Linked DNA regions of Homo sapiens: region 1 is linked to region 2. Evidence: fine-mapped expression QTL. A gene starts in region 2. The other region holds a variant in brackets. All regions are shown on one strand. Distances are between the middles of the regions.

Region 1 (2,919 bases), 540 kb before region 2:
ATAACAAGAGAGATCTGTTTTTCTATATGTGGTGAGCTCTGGATAAAACTCTTTTCAAGGCTTTTTAAAGTTTGCAAATATTAATAAGAGCCCTCAAAAAAGCAAAAAATTTCTGAGGTGCCAATGTTTGCCATATAACTATTCTGTCAATATTACTCTCCCCACCACCACTTACCTGCATTCGATATTATCATCTAATACAGAGATAAGGAAGATACAAGTGACCATCTAGCTTCCCTAATAGGTGCTGGAAACCTCTTTTGTAAAAGACATGGGGAGACCATGGATGATCTCCAAGAATGTAAGTGAAAAAATATCTCTGCAAGTATATACTTGCACTTTAGAAGGGAGCTTATACCTTTTTTCCAGCTCTCTCAGAACCTTACACACCACCATGAAAGATATATTTGAGACCTACTTTAATATACAAGGATAACAGTATATAAAACTAGAATCAAAAAGTGCCAATCAATGATATATCCTGAAGAAGACAACACAAATATTTTAAAGACAGATAAAACTTCACATGGGGAGGAAGTTGGGGAGTGGGGAATTAAGATATTCTATGGATAAAGAAATCTCCAATAAAGAAGACTTTATATTTTTGAAAGCCAAGGAAGAGATTAAACAATTTTAAGATCTCTTTCTGTTCTATCATTATACTTGAATAAGCAGATTCAATTTTAATATCTTTATTAAAGAAAGATCTCTGGATCTTTCTTTCTGTATAACTCTGTCCTTTAATGTCTTTAAAGCTGAGCATTAACTATATATTTTTTATATATTAATCCTTTGAAAGATATGAAAAGTGTACCATGTGATAAATTTTAAATCACTTATAAAGTAATGAGGATTTGATGTAACTTCCAAAAATATCAAATCTCTGGTCACCATTCCCAGAAAATTACAATTGAATGAGTTAGGTAGGGCATTCAACAAGAAAATATCTGATTTCTGATGATATGATCATGTGTTGGGTAGGACTTTGATAAGAAAGAGATGAATGGCAATTTAGACTAACTTGTCTTTATAAAAATGTACAATAATGAGCATTAAATATGTGAATCAAAGAGTACTATTTATTGGATTCTGTGAATAAAGTGGCACCAATTACCTGTCATTCTCAGGACCCATAGTTCTCATCCTTCATGGGTTTTCTTCTGTTTGGATGGAAGTGACTGAAGAT[T/G]AACTTCTTAATGGCTCCTGGGGGATCATGACTCAGCTGCCAGGACTTCTCGTTCCTTTAGAGTGATTCAGAGGAGTTGATCACGATGTCATCTGGGCAGATGGTTGTAGTCACCAACAGCTGTAGTTCCTCTCTTGAACCAAACTCAGACCCCTCCCAGATACTTGTCATTAGAAGCAATCATGAATTCTTAGCTTTTTCACATTAAGGCTTATTTTTATTACTAAAAATACTCTCCTTAATAGGAGTGAAAACACTGATCATTATTTGTCATGTTTATTGTACTTACAGATAAAAATTTTAGCTAATATTTGAAACTATAACATTTTTCTAATCAGGAAGTTTTCTAATTCATCATAAATCTGAAACCAAAAGGTTCTAGAAATCCAGTCTCAGGTATTATGAGTGTAGATTTTGCCCCCTTTTTCCCCTAAATATAATAAAGTAACATTTTTGTGAGAAATTCCCATACCTGGGTGAACATTTTGCTCTCCTTTTGCCATACCACAAGTTGAGATCATCAGAAGCAGAAAGTTGAGAAGTCTCCAATGTATTTGCCTAGGCAGAGATAAAATCTGATGGAAACAGGCCTTCAGGAGAAATGAAGAAACTGACTTGATCTTTTTAGCTATTAATCCTTAAAAATTTTTAAAAAGGTAATATCAACCTGAATTCCAGAACCTGTTAGGAAAGTCTCGTCTTTCCATGTATTTGCAAAGCACATGTACCTCCCACAAGATATCCCATTCATTATGAATTAATAGATTGATTTTAACTAACAAATTAATTCATTTACCAAGAGTTACATAGACAGGTAGGTAGATACACAATTAAAGGAGCAACTCTTCAGGAAACAGATGTTTTGGTCCTGAAATACCATTTGCTTATCTCACTCAATAACAGGTACCTAGAAGAGCAAATACAAAAAGCAGGTAAAATAGCCAAAAGTAGCCACAGGTTTCTCAATCTCTCTATATCATTCTCATTTTTAATATGTATGGTAATTATAATAGAGAAATACACATTTAATATATTATTCTTTTTTTTTCCTCTCATGCCAAAAATTCATTGTATTATCTTGCATTCGTTTTTTATTCCATTTCCTTTCATTTGGAGCTACTAGTTTTGTAGTTGTGCAGAATTTTATTCTTGAAAACCTCCGTTTGGTTCAGATATGTAATGCTAACTTTTATTTGTTTTTTTTCCCCTCTTAAGGAAATGACGATAACATACCATAAAGAGCTTTGCTTTTAAACAAATTTAGTTAGTATGGAAATCAGTAGTTTTGATGAAGAAAGGTGAATTCATTCAAAGAAAACAATGTAATCTTTTTCTGAAAAAAAAAAAAAAAAACTTACAAATTTAACTATAAAGTCCAGACAAAATAATTCCATTCATTTTTAGAGAGTTTTAGTAGTTATGGACAACTATACATAGAACAGGCATATTAAAATACTATTCATTACTATAAAAAGAAACATTGGCATTATTTCCTTTATTATGTGTTTCTTTTTTATTTCAATGTGTTCGTTGTATTCTTAGTAGTGGAGATCTATAGTATATCACATTCTCTTCAGATTTCAATTGCAAATTTTAAGAAATGTGTTTACATGTTTACATTTGCCCTGTTCTTAATTTTCTAATGATCTCTTCTCCCCCTTCCCCCTTATTGCCTCTCAGTTTCACTTCTCCACTTCCAGGACTCACATTCCTCTCTTAATTGGCAATAAATA
Region 2 (2,919 bases):
TTAGAGGTTTGTGTAAGTTTTTTATCTTTTCTAAAAAACAAACTTTATTCTATGCTGAATCTCCCTATTGTGGCTTGGTTTTCTAAATTCCTTTATTTCTGTTATTATTACTTCTTTCTACCTTCTTAAGATTTACTATTTTTCTAACTTCTTCACTTAATCATTGCTCAGTTAAATATTTAGCTAATAATTTTCCAATTGTTTTGTCCTAGTACAGACATTTAAGGTTAACATTTTTCCTGTGAGTATACTTTTTGTTGTAGTCTATCAGTTGTGCTTCTCTTGTTTTTCAGATCTAAATAGTTTATAAATTGCAATCTGATTTCTGCTTTAAGCTATAAAATATTCGGAAAAGCACATTTTGGCATTCTTTACTAATTTTATTGCAATGTTTTCAGAGAACATGTTTTGTGTGTTACCAACTCTTAGAGACTTTCTTTGTGGCCAAGTACATGAACAATTTAAAAATATATCCTATGGATGGACTTCAGGTGCCAGCCAAGATGAAGTAAGCCTGCTAGAATCTTTCTCTTTCACTCATTACAATTAAAAATTCAGGACAAAATACTAAAACACTTACCTGAGGATGATTCCGAAACAAAATAATAGCAAGGAGGTTGAGGAGCGACATCAAAACTCAAAAAATGACCAGTATGCCAATAGTGAGTTTCCTAGGATATTTTCCTTCAAGATCATCTGGTCTTGGCTTAAGGATGGGCCAAATCAGGGAACAATGTGATGGGAACAGACAGCAAAAACTTTGAGAAAACCCTGGTTTTCTGTCAGAGTACTAAGAAACTGGGACCCTGAGAGGTGGAAAGTGGAGGTTGAAGGTGAAATCCCAATGTGTTTTTCTCTCCCTCTGCCCCAAGGCCAGCTTCATTGACCAGCTTCAGTGCATGTAGAGGCAGCAGCATGAATGTAAGCCCTAGAAATCCATCTTTCTGGACAGAGGAACCAGGAAAATGGGCCTCTAGGGGCCTCTGTGTGTAAAGACTGTGGAAGGAATTCCCATTTTTATTTTCAGTCTTTTCTTTCATTACTTCATCCCCCGGGTATATCCAATAACACAGAACTGTGCAACTGTGTGGAAAACTTAGAAGACTCCTGGCCAGAGGGACTGGGAAAAGAGGACCCTGAGAGACAGACTCTGAGAGAGAAAATTATTTAAAAAGAAAAAAAAAAAGAGAGAGAGAGAGAGAAGCGGCCCCGCCCGGCTCGCAGCGGCAGCATGGCCGCAGCGCGGGGGCAGCAGCAGCAGGCGGCTGCGCGCGGATGTCGCAGGGTTTCGCGGCAGCATGACGGACTACCTGATCAGGGGCGGCACCGACTATGTGCCCGATAACTGGCTCCCCGCGCAGCAGCTCTTTGCCAGCGCCGACTGCCTCACCTACGACGACTTCCTGATTCTCCCAGGATTCACAGACTTCATAGCTGATGAGGCGGACCTGACCTCAGCCCTGACCCGGAAGATCACGCTGAAGACTCCGCTCATTTCCTCCCCCACGGACACTGTGACAGGCCGACATAGCCATTGCAATGGCTCTGATGGGAGGTATTGGTTTCATTCACCACAACTGCACCCCAGAGTTCCAGGCCAAGGAGGTGCGGAAGGTCAAGAAGTTTGAACAGGGCTTCATCACGGACCCGGTGGTGCTGACCCCCTCGCACACTGTGGGTGATGTGTTGGAGGCCAAGATGCGGCATGGCTTCTCTGGCATCCCCATCACTGAGACGGGCACCATAGGCAGCAAGCTGGTGGGCATCGTCACCTCCAGAGACATCAACTTTCTTGCTGAGGAGGACCACACCACCCTCCTCAGTGTTGGCTCCAGCAGGCCTGATGTTGAAAGAGGCAAATGAGATCCTGCAGCATAGCAAGAAAGGGAAGCTGTCTTTCGTCAATGATCCGATGAGCTGGTGGCCATGATCACCTGCACCGACCTGAAGAAGAACAGAGACTACCCTCTGGCCTCCAAGGATTCCCACAAGCAGCTACTGCGTGGGGCAGCTGTGGGCACCCCTGAGGATGACAAATACCGCCTGGACTTGCTCACCCAGGCGGGGGTAGACGTCGTAGTCTTGGACTTGTCCCAAGGGAACTCGGTGTATCAGATTGCCACGGTGCATTACATCAAACAGAAGTACCCCCACCTCCAGGTGATTGGGATGACAGCCGCCCAGGCCAAAAACCTGATTGACGCTGCGGTGGACGGGCTGCGCATAGGTATGGGCTGCGGCTCCATCTGCATCACCCAGGAAGTGATGGCCTGCGGTGGGCCCCAGGGCACTGCATTGTACAAGGTGGCCGAGTATGCCCTGTGCTTTGGTGTGTCCATCATAGCCGATGGCGGCATCTAGACCGTGGGGCACGTGGTTAAGGCCCTGGCCCTTGGAGCCTCCACAGTGATGATGGGCTCCCTGCTGGCCACCACCACGTAGGACCCCGGCGAGTATTTCTTCTCAGATGGGGTGCGGCTCAAGAAGTACCAGGGCATGGGCTCACTGGATGCCATGGAGAAGAGCAGCAGCAGCCAGAAATGATACGTCAGCAAGGGGAATAAGGTGAAGATCGCGCAGGGTGTCTTGGGCTCCATCCAGGACAAAGGATCCATTCATAAGTTCGTGTCCTACCTCATAGCGGGCATCCAGCCTGGCTGCCAGGATATTGGGCCGCAGCCTGTCTGTCCTTCAGTCCATGATGTACTCAGGAGAACTGAATTTTGAGAAGCAAACCATGTCGGCCCAGATCAAGGGTGGCGTCCATGGCCTGCACTCTTAGGAGAAGCGGCTGTACTGAGGACAGCAGTGGAGGCCAAGGTGGTGGAAGGGGCATACCGCAGTGTCCACTTTCAGGCACAGCCTCCCTCCATAACTGAGTGGTCCACAGACTTGCACTATAGGTTCCCCAGCTCCTTT

Alleles and levels. Alleles are on the strand shown, and positions count from the first base shown. SD is a standard deviation of normalised expression in the study named.
For the expression in esophagus mucosa of the gene that starts at base 1,403 in region 2, allele T in region 1 goes with a higher level than allele G (moderate effect, 0.69 SD a copy in GTEx).

The links.
Region 1: its variant is fine-mapped to the expression of CALCRL-AS1 in esophagus mucosa (GTEx, PIP above 0.99). The same link has a PIP of 0.9 or more in sun-exposed skin.

Annotation. Positions count from the first base shown.
Region 1 is chr2:187,545,903-187,548,821 of GRCh38, reverse strand. The region is part of intron 1 of TFPI (tissue factor pathway inhibitor); the gene reads left to right. It overlaps CALCRL-AS1 (CALCRL and TFPI antisense RNA 1), which reads right to left. Exons shown (of 6, transcript NR_187179.1): 4 at 1,983-2,093; 5 at 1,659-1,744; 6 at 1,297-1,339. Among named protein-coding and RNA genes, the nearest start is that of TFPI, 7.1 kb to the left of the region's middle. RefSeq lists an enhancer at 794-1,993. The variant T/G (reference allele first, on the strand shown) is at 1,187.
Region 2 is chr2:187,001,757-187,004,675 of GRCh38, reverse strand. It overlaps CALCRL-AS1 (CALCRL and TFPI antisense RNA 1), which reads right to left and starts at 1,403. Exons shown (of 6, transcript NR_187179.1): 1 at 1,311-1,403. It also overlaps the pseudogene IMPDH1P7.